Regions from separate parts of the Homo sapiens genome. Here region 1 is linked to region 2. The links come from fine-mapping of genetic effects on gene expression. Tissue or cell type: prefrontal cortex. Region 2 holds a variant in brackets; the other region holds the start of a gene. All regions are shown on one strand. Distances are from middle to middle.

Region 1 (5,000 bases), 62 kb after region 2:
TAAATCTATATTTATTTATCCGGGTCTACAGTGATAAATAAATACCCTGGACCCGGGAATCCCAGCCTCAGTAAGGACAGGCCCCTCTCTGATGTGAAAATGTTGATAACAGCTTTTACCAGGAGAGTCTCTTGCTGGGGAAATTCTGCAGCGGCCTGAGTCTGCCACAAGTTTGATGGCATTGGTTAAGAAATGTGGATGCCATTAATCGCAGGAGCATCTCAGACATGTTGCAAACAGACCTAGTAGTGCCTCCTCATTCTGTGGCACCCATCTGACACCCTAGACACCTCTCAGTCCCTCCAAGGCATTATCCAGTGCTTCTCCTTCCTAAACAGCTGCATGTTTGAGCTTCCTAAACAGCTCAAAGCACCCCTGGGGTGATGGGTTTTTATCTGGGCCGCTTGATTGGGGTTTCAGACAGGCCTGGCATCCTCTTGGGGGCATGGCTCCTCAGGAGTGACGAATTATCCAGGGTGTTAAGTCACTGATCTAGCTGTGTCAAAAACAAGGGCTAACCAGAGAGGTACAAAGCTGCATTTCTTGGAGGTCAGAGAGATGGCACAGGAGATGTGCCAAAATTTCACGTGAAAAGGAGGGCAACAGCTCCCCAAGGGGGCAACATTGGCACCATGGTGATGTCGCTGGAGGGAGAGGGAGCCCTTGGGGGACTATGTGAAGTAGGGGAGAGTGGGTGACAGGCCATTACCATGATATCTCAATCCTTCCCACACTCCTGTAACGAATGTACAACTGTCCTCCCTGCAAAAGAAACACTGAGGCTGCGAGAGGGGCAAGACTTGCCTGAGCTAACTGGAGCAGAAGTAGCAGAGGCAGGGTTTGAACCCAGCTCTCACTACCTGTCCCTTGGGACAGGGCAACAGCTTTCTCTATGTGGACACACTGGTGATGGATCCCCCGTCCTGCCTGCCTGCCTGCCTATGGTGGCCTATGCTGCCTGCCCCTGGTGAGTCCAGGAGGGGCAATCCAGTGACTGGCAGATCCTTTCTGGGGAGTGTTTCTAGAAGGGACCGTGGGTCTGGACAAGCCATAACAGGAAGTAGCCAAGCTGGGCAAGGGCTTCCCCAGCCCAGGCCTAACTACTGCCCATCGATCCAGGCAGAAGGCGGGGTTAGAGACTGCCCTGGGAGATTGGGGGTCTGGGTCCCCTCTGATGAGAGCTCTGGTCTCTCCCTATAAACACACACTCCTATCACAGACACACACATAACACACATGCACATAAATCCACATCAAGCATGCACACACATCCATCATACACACATACGACACACACATGCACCCCTGCACACACACACTACGCTTACATATACCTTTGTGGGATGTAGAGCCATTCCTCCAGAAGCCCATCCATGTACCCCAGATGAAACCACCCAACACCAATTCTTACCTTGTTACATATGGTGAAATCAAGGCATAGACCGAAGTGCTGTGGTTAAGAGCTGTTACTCTCCGAAGTCAGGCGATCTGGGTACAAATCCTGGCTCTGCCAAACCCCTGCCACGGTGCTTTAGGTAAATGACAGCTCCTTTCTGTGGCTTAGTTTCTCCACCTGTAAAATGAGAATAAGAACAGACTCTGCACTTATGGGGTCAGCCCAGATCTCCTCCTAGGGAGACTGCGAGTGCCTGGGCCTCAGTTTTCTCTTCTGTAAAATGGGGATATTGTGCCCAGTTCGAGCAGAGTGGCTTGAAGAGTCACCTGAGATAGGATGTGAAGTGGCCGCGGTGAGGTGCCCAATACACGTGGCGCGCACTGCTCAGGAAGCTTTCCTTGGAGGGCTGGATCCCGCAAAGGTGTCGAAAAAGGATGAGTCCCGGATATCATTCGCTCAGGTGAGGTGGGTTCGGGTCCCGGCTGCGTCTGGGACCGTGGCCCGGGCCTCAGTTTCCCAGTCTACAGCCCGTGGGAGGACACCTCGGAGCTGGCACCCCGCCCCCAAAAGGGCCCCGCGGCGCAGGGCGTGGGGCTCAGGTGGACACCTGGCGGGCCTCCTGGCGGGGGCGCCCTGGCCGCCCGGGCCCCTCCGGGCTCCTTCCGGGTTGGCAGCGGCGGCGCAGGGGGCGGGGGGCAGCGCAGAGGGGCCGGGCGAGGCCGGGAGCGCGCGCCCCCGCCCCCGCCCGCCCGCCTCCTGCCCGCCCTCCGGCCGCGGAGCTGGAAACCGGGCTCCGCGCGTCCGGGGCGGCTGGCGGCGCGGGCAGGCAGGCGGGGAGGACAGGCTGGGGGCGGCGACCGCGAGGGGCCGCGCGCGGAGGGCGCCTGGTGCAGCATGGGCGGCCCGCGGGCTTGGGCGCTGCTCTGCCTCGGGCTCCTGCTCCCGGGAGGCGGCGCTGCGTGGAGCATCGGGGCAGCTCCGTTCTCCGGACGCAGGTAAGAGCTCCCGGCGCCTTTGCACCCCGCTGGCCGAGGGTCCCGGCGCGCACACGCCCCCACCTCCAGGAAGGGCTGGGATTGGAGGGCGATCCAGTCCCCAGCCCGGGTGAGGGCAGGGACACGGCCATCCCGCGGTCCGGCTGAGGCTCCCGCGAGTGCGGGGTCCCCTACTCCATGTGTCGGAGCTGGCTGCCTCCCCTACTCCCTCCCTTTCAACCCAGGAGCTCGAGAGGAGGGGGAAGGGGCGCAACGAGGGCGAAGCCCTGGCCCTTCTGTTCCCCTGTCCCTAGGGCCCCTCCCCCTGCACTTGGGAAAGGCCTATGACACCCCCTAGCCGACTCTTCTCGGACCCTCTCTCCCCTTTTCCCTGTTCCTGTTTTTTTGCTTTGTTTTGTTTTTTGTTTGTTTGTTTTGTACCCAGGCTATTTATCTCCCTCGGAGGAGGGACTGGGGTGGAGTCTCACAGCCCAGTGGGTCAGTGTCGGAGATACCCCAGGGACCTGGCATTTTGGACAGAGAAAAGAGGGAGCACAGTCTTCCTTCTGCTCTCCTAGCGGCGGGGAACCTCCTCCCTGCTGGCCTTTACGGAGGAGCTCCCAGAACCTGACATGGTGGGGCCCATTATTATATATAGTGTCCTCATCAATCCTTGAAGGACCGAATGAGGTAGGGAAAACTGTCCCCATTCAACGGTTAAGCAAACTGAGACCCTAGGGAATTGGCATCATCTTTTAGCCTCATGGGCTATTCACTGAAGAGCTAGGTTGCAAATCTGCCCTTCTATCCTTGATGACAGTGTTTGAACCTGTCCTGGCCTCTGTCCTGGCTGCAGCCCCAGCGAGGGTCCCCTCCTAAAGGCCAGCCGCCGTTGTCCAAGGCAGACAATGTGGAGTAGCCAGGCCTCTCCAGGCCTTTTCATCCCATTCAAAGGCCTGCGCGGCCCCCACCCCCTACGGCCTCAATTCTTTAATTCTTTTCAGAAATTCTCCTTTCCCAGTGGTCAGGGGCCAGCATGCCCCTGCTGGGCTAGCAAGAGCAGTTGACATGGGCAGGGCTGGAGGACGGAGGTGGTTGAAGCATCAGAGGCCAGAAGAGCAGTTGTCTGAGACAGGGGTGGACGTGTGGCAGATGTTACAGCCACCACCTATTGTGTGCAGACAACAGTTAGCCTGAGTCGGCTCCGTTACCTGCATTCATCAGCTCCAGAATCCTCCCAGCTGCTTGGAGGTATGCTCTTTATGATTCTGTTTCATAGAGGAGGAAGATGAGGCTCAGAGAGGGAACATGACCTGCCCAGAGCATGGAAGTGAGCCGCCAGGATCCCAGATGCTAAGAGGACAGAGACTATGAACTCAGAAATCCCACTGTTAGGCTCAGGATGATGGTGGCGACAGCTTAAGGCCCAGACCGCCCTGCAGCCAGTTCAAGGCAGGGCTTCCCAGCCTGGGCTCCTCACCTCCCAGGGTCTCCTGGGTGGGAACAGGATGATGGCTATAACCAGGTATCTGGTGGTCACTGGGGACTGTCACTCCATGTGTTGACAGAAGCCTATCACAGTAGCCTGAGCATCCCAAAAACCCTGTGGGCAACACTATTGCACCCATTGTACAGATACGGAGGCTGAGGCCTACAGAGGACAAGTGGCACCTCAGTCCAGACCAGTCGATTTCCAAATCCAGTGGCTTTTTCTCTCCAGCAGCCTTGCTGGAAGAGGGAAAGAGGTTGTCGGCTTGGGGGCACCAGGAAAGGTTTGCAGTCATGATTAGGAGTTAGGGGCTCCAGCCTTGGACAGAATGGAGACAGAATTCCTTGCTCTTACAGGCTTGATGTGTGACCTCAAGTGGGTCACTTCCTGGCCATGGGTCTCAGTTTTGCTCTCAGTTTCCTTCTTTCCTCGTGGGAAGGACCAGCACCGGGCCTCACCTGCAGTGGTTCCTGCTATCAATCATGTCACATGGGGGTAGGGACCTGGAGCTTGAGGAGTCTGTGGGCTACCAGAACCTCCACTTGTGGCCCCATCCCCACGTTGCTGGAGACAGCATGGGGGTGTCATGCCCTGTCAGCCTTCCTGCCACCCACACCCCAGCACCCCAGGCACCCCTTGGCAGCCAAGGGACCAGACGCAGAAAAGAGGCTTTGTCCTGGGGAGGGGGTGGCCTGGGAAGGCATCCAGGGGGCCGCCCCTTGCCCCAGGAAGGTGGTGACACTTGGAGACCCCCGGAACCAGGGTGCCCAAGGGCTATGCAGAGCTGCCTTGGCTTGCCCCTGCCCCTGGGGCTGCTTCCTGCCCCGCTGAGGTCCTTCTAAGCCTGGAGTCTGCTTCCTTTAACCACTCATCTCAGCGTTTCAGCTGAGGGTTCAAGCCTTCACCAGCCCAGATCTCTCGCCCCTGCAGCACCGGCTTCCTTCCGGCAAATCCTAGGATCAGGGAGAATGGAGGGCTCTAAAATGGAGGGGATCTGCCCCAGCCTCTGTCTAGGGGGCTGCAATCCCAGCTGATGCCCACAGGGGTGACCTGGGTAGGTGCTTTCTCTTGGAGCCTGTTTCCCCCTCTGTAAAATGCAGAACCTGATAATCCCTATTCCAAGGGGAAGACCTTGTGAAGA
Region 2 (5,295 bases):
TTTTAGTGGAAATAATGTCCTCGTGTGTGTGTGTGTGTGTGTGTGTCTGCATGTGCATGTGTGTGTGTGTGTGTCTGTGTCTGTGTGTGTGTGTCTGTGTGTGTGTGTATGTGTGTTTTAAAGTCACAATTCACATGCTCTGGGGAAGCCTCTCAGGCTCAGTCCTGACCACATCCCCTGTGGCAGCAAGAGAGCCCAATGCTTCCTATAGCGTCCAGCATCTGATAGCATGGCTGAGGCCCTAAAGTGCATGCCTAACTCTCCTCTGACATCGGCTGCAGCTTCCCTGCCAGGCAGCCGTGGGGGCTGAACAGAGTCCGGGCCAGCACCGGAGGCTAGACGGGTCTCTGCTTGAAGCAGAGAAGTTTTGTGTTTATCTTGTTTTAGCTAGGTGGGCTTCCAGGTAAATGGCATTTGAAGACAGTTCTTTTATTTAAAATAAAAGAATTTGAAAATCCATAATCTCTCAGGCTGGGCTTTTCCAGATTTGAAGAATTCTGCTAGTTAGAAAGTTCTTTGTTATTCTGATGCAGACGCTGCCCTGCTGCACTTGGCCTCAGCCCCTGCTGCCCACAGGCCACATTTCAGTTGCACGCTAGTCCTTCAGATCTTTAGAGGTGGCTGTGAGGTCCTTCCCAAGACCTTGCCCCACCCCATTTCATAGATACAGTATCTCGTGAGATGGTAGGTTGTTTGCGTTGTTCTAATCTATTGGAAAAAATATTTATCTGCTTGACAGATCCCATCGTGTTCCTGCTTCAGGGGACCTTAGGGATTGTCATCAACCAGGGACTTCGGGGGAAATCTGGAGCATTTTTTACAAGCCTTCCACTTCAATTTCCATCTTTAAGAAGAAACTCAAGGGTCAGAGTCAACAAGATGACCGCAATCCCCTTGTGAGTGACTAAAAACCCCACTGTGCCTAGGACTTGAGGTCCCTCTTTGAGCTCAAGGCTGCCGTGGTCAACCTCTCCTGTGGTTCTTCTCTGACAGACTCTTCCCCTCCTCTCCCTCTGCCTCGGCCTCTTCGGGGAAACCCTCCTCCTACAGACTAGGAAGAGGCACCCTGCTGCCAGGGCAGGCAGAGCCTGGATTCCTCCTGCTTCATCGATTGCACTTAGGAGAGAGACTCAAAGCCCTGGGGCCCGGCCCTCTCTGCATCTCTCTCTGATCTAGCTAGCAGTGGGGGTGTCAGGACAGTGAGGCTGAGATGACAGAGGTGGTCATGGCTGGCACAGGGCTCAGGTACATTCTAGATGGCTGTCAGGTGGTGGGTAGCTTTAGTTACATTGAATTTTTCTTGCTTCTCTATTTTTGTCCACACACAAATCAGTTTCTCCTGATCTTTATGTCTTGGAACAGGGCCAGACAGGGAGAACTCTCAGGTACTCTTGGGAGTTGGTCCCATACAAGTGCGGACTCCTGGACATTAGCGAGGTGTAAAGAGGGCAGTGTCTGTGCTGCCCCGGCAGCTTTGCTCTCCAGATGCTGGACTAGGGTGGGCCTCCTTCAGCCTGGGAGGGTCTGAGAATAAGATCTAGTGACCCCCATTTATATCAAACCTGATACCTTACACATGGGCTTCTTTCTAGATTCTTCTTTCCATAGCTCATGGAGCTGCAGGGAAAGCTTTAAGAGCTTTGGTCATATAAAACATCCATTCAGCTGGGCGCGATGGCTCATGCCTGTAATCCCAGCACTGTGGGAGGCTGAGGCGGGCAGATCACCTGAGGTCAGGAGTTCGAGACCAGCCTGGCCAACATGGTGAAACCCCGTCTCTACTAAAAATATAAAAATTAGTCAGGCGTGGTGGCAGGCGCCTGTAATCCCAGCTACTCAGAAGGCTGAGACAGAAGAACAGCTTGAACCCAGGAGGCTGAGATTGCAGTGAGCCGAGATCGCACCACTGCACTCCAGCCTGGGTGACAAGAGTGAGACTCTGTCTCAAAAAAACAAAACACAAATAAACAAAAAAAATCCATTCATTTACTCATGCAATAAATTCTCCTGCAAGCTTTTATGGGCACTCAGTAAGTACTCAGGATTGGCTTTATCAGCCTTGCCACTGAGCAGCTCATGGTCCTATGGAACCTGAGCCAGGCCTCAGTCTCTCCATGATTGGCTCAGCTAACTCTCAGTTCAGAGTGGAGAGTATCAATCTTGTGTTTTTGCCCTTAGGCAGCACTATATGAGACATGGGGCCTGTGGTCCTTCCTTCTGGTGTCCCCCGTGTTAAAAGATAAAAAACACCCCAAGGGCCGGGCGCGGTGGCTCATGCCTGTAATCCCAGCACTTTGGGAGGCTGAGGCGGGTGGATCACGAGGTCAGGTGATCGAAACCATCCTGGCTAAGATGGTGAAACCCCGTCTCTACTAAAAATACAAAAAATTAGCTGGGTGTGGTGGTGGGCGCCTGTAGTCCCAGCTGCTCGGGAGGCTGAGGCAGGAGAATGGCGTGAACCCGGGAGGCGGAGCTTGCAGTGAGCAGAGATCACGCCACTGCACTCCAGCCTGGGTGACAGTGCAAGACTCTGTCTCAAAAAAAAAAAAAACACTCCAAGGGCCATCCGTGCTCTCTGCCCCTCCTGTGGGGACCAAGTGGGGTTAGGAATGGCTCAGTGGGGAAGGAGAGCACTCTTGTCCCCAGTCCCTTGCCACCCTGTCCCTTAGATAGGGAGGTGGGCTGCAGAGATTGGTGCCAGAAGAGGGTGGGTTTGGGAATTGGAGCTCCTCCAAGGAGCTCCTCCTAAGATTGAGTGCTGCAGCTGTAGTGGCTGCTGGTTGGGAGAGTAAGTGCCATCACTAATTTAAAAGTCCTTGCCATCTGGAATCAGGCTTTGTCAACAGCAGCTGAGAAAAGCAGCCTGTGCCTCTGCTGGCCAGGCCTAGGCCCTCGTCAGAGCGTGCCTCTCCACAAGGCACTTGGGCCTGGGTGATTGTTGCGCCTCTGGCTTTGGCGTTTCCTCTTTGCAGCACTTTGCCTACCTCCCCCAAGCCCTGAGCCAC[T/G]GCCTGCTGGGGCTCCTACTGAGGTTCTGGAAACACCTCTGCACCTGCCGCCCCTGGGAGGAAAGAGGGCCACACAGGAAGTGTCTGCAGGGAGAGGTGGCACTCGGCAGCCTGAGTTCAGGAGAGGTGCTTGGAGCTTCAGGCAGAGGGGCCTTCAGAGGAGGGAAACGGAGCAATGTGTCACAGGCAGGCAGGGGCAGGACTGCCACCCCAGGCCCCGTGGGAGGCCTGCTGAGGGCACAGAGCTGCTCGGTGCAGCCTTCATGCTTTGATCTGGAAAGAGCAGCTGTCCGCAGGCCTCTGTCTCCAAGAGGCCTGTCACACAGGAGGACCGCTGGAAACATACCAACACGTGCAGTCTCCCCTCCAAGCTATTCATGCTGTTTGTGGAATCTCTCTCAAACATAAGTGTCAGGTGTGTGTCGTCCCAACGGGTCCTGTGCTGTGAATAGATCCATGTGCAGCACAAAGGGAATGTGGCACGTGGCCCCAGGAAGAGTTCACCCGGCCAGGGGGCAGTTGTTCAGTTGCCTGGGGCTGACACTGACCACTGGCCTCTGGGGTGTCCTGCAGCCCAAATGCCCACCTTGCCCTCCTCACATCTCAGTCAGGGGAGGCCATGCCCAAGCCAATGTGCTGTCACAGCCTGCAGCGGGGGCAGCACTTCCTCGGAGGGCCTGGGAGGTGCTGGGGATGCCCCAGCGCTTCTCTTCCTGCCTCGCCCTGGCATGGCCCAGCGCCTCTAGGATCAACTTACGATCCGTGGAGCAGCCCCGGGAAACCCAAATCTGGCTCAGGACAGCGTACGGGCAGGAGGGCTGTAAATCATCCCAGGCTAAGCCTCCGTGGGCACTGGCTCCTGCCGCAGCCTGGCTATGGACTCAGTTAGAACCAGGTAGAAAGTCAGCGACACCCCACAGAAGGCCACTGCGGCTAGGTAAACACCTGAGAAAGAAACTGCTCCAGAAGAGATGACGTGGGCTTCCAGGAGCATGGAGGAGGTGGCACTTGAACTTTTAGGAAACTCCTTAGATGAGATAAAGTGGGGGTTGGAGGTGGCGAAAAGAGGGTAACCCTGGGAAAGTCAGTCAGAACCCATGGCAGAAGACTGCAGGAGAGGCAGGGGAGGGGCTTCGGGGACCACTGTGGACAGAGCTCTGAAAGCACCCTGGCCAAAGCCCCTCCTGAGGTGACAGAGCGTGGGAGGAGGCTGCACTGGGCCTGCGTGCCATCCTCACCCCTGTTCCCCGCTGGCGCCAGGCCCTGCCTTCTTGGTACCTGTGCCAACAGGAGAGCCCTCACCAGCCGATCTTGTCACTCTCCGTGGTGACAGTGTCTTGGCCAGCTGTGGCCCCTAGTTTCTAGCAGCGTTTCTCAGTGTCCTTGGCCCTTCTGAGAAGGCAGGCGGGAGGCACACGGTGCCCTGTTCTTCCCCGTTTGTCCAGTTGCTTGCAAAGCAGAGAATGAGTAGGAGTGAACCCGAGTGACTTCACCCGCCCTGTCCCCCACGTCAGGACAGGCTTGAGGCCTCTCTGGGCGTGAGCGAGGAAACCAGGCTGCTCTAACTTCTGAAGAGTGGGCTCTGGCTCAAGACTCCAATCGGCCAGAAGCCCACAGAGATCAAAGCACTAGCAAGTTCAGCTGTCCTGGCCCTCGGGTAGAACCCACGGGCGTGCCTGGGTGCGGCTCCACCCACATGCCCCACTGTCAGCCCAGGCAGGAGCCTTCCTGGCCGGGCTCAGGATCTGCCTGCAGCCCAGCCAGGCCATCACCCAGCCCCGATGCATCCTGGCACTGCACGCTTACTCTTCACAAGCACTTATACGCGGATGGCCTCCGAGACCCTGCCTCCCTGGTCTGCTGAGGTCAGGCCAGGTCTCCCACGGAGCCGGGCAGCTCCACACCCCACCACCTGGCACCGTTAGGTTTCAGATCTCCCGTGTGGTGTTTGATGTCGGCTTTTGTTCCTACCTTGGGAGTTTGGATTGTTTCCTCTGGTGTCTTTGTTTACCTTCCTCACTGTTCTACCTCCTGGCCAGGTCTCAGCTTAGCTTCCCTGGTGTGGGGTGTTTTTCAAGCCTTCCAGCCACAGCTGTCTCCCCTCAGGCTGGACGGCTCCGGGGTGACAGGGCTTCACCCTCTGCCTGCAGACCCCTGGTGGGCACATCTCACAGGCTTCCGTCTTGCTGAGTTGGGTACGGAGGCAGAAGTGGGGTGTGGAGGAAAGTCAGAGGGAAATCTGCTTCAGAAAGGAAGGGTCTTTAGACACAAAGACTGGAGGCCCTTCCCC

Which allele goes with the higher level. Alleles are on the strand shown, and positions count from the first base shown. SD is a standard deviation of normalised expression in the study named.
In carriers of allele G in region 2, the expression in prefrontal cortex of the gene that starts at base 2,148 in region 1 tends to be higher than with T alone (moderate effect, 0.52 SD a copy in ROSMAP).

What was found. PIP is the estimated chance that this variant, and not a neighbour inherited with it, causes the effect.
Region 1: it holds the start of EMID1, and the variant in region 2 is fine-mapped to the expression of EMID1 in prefrontal cortex (ROSMAP, PIP 0.92).

What each region holds. Positions count from the first base shown.
Region 1 is chr22:29,203,749-29,208,748 of GRCh38, forward strand. It overlaps EMID1 (EMI domain containing 1), which reads left to right and starts at 2,148. Exons shown (of 15, transcript NM_133455.4): 1 at 2,148-2,391. The coding sequence starts at 2,291. It overlaps LOC101929638 (a long non-coding RNA gene), which reads right to left and starts at 2,084. Exons shown (of 5, transcript XR_938134.3): 1 at 1,723-2,084; 2 at 1,412-1,573. RefSeq lists silencers at 2,243-2,332, 2,343-2,502, 2,523-2,582.
Region 2 is chr22:29,141,205-29,146,499 of GRCh38, forward strand. KREMEN1 (kringle containing transmembrane protein 1) reads left to right here. Exons shown (of 9, transcript NM_001039570.3): 9 at 740-5,295. The coding sequence ends at 908. Among named protein-coding and RNA genes, the nearest start is that of EMID1, 62 kb to the right of the region's middle. RefSeq lists enhancers at 1-294, 295-794, 4,581-5,281. The variant T/G (reference allele first, on the strand shown) is at 3,006.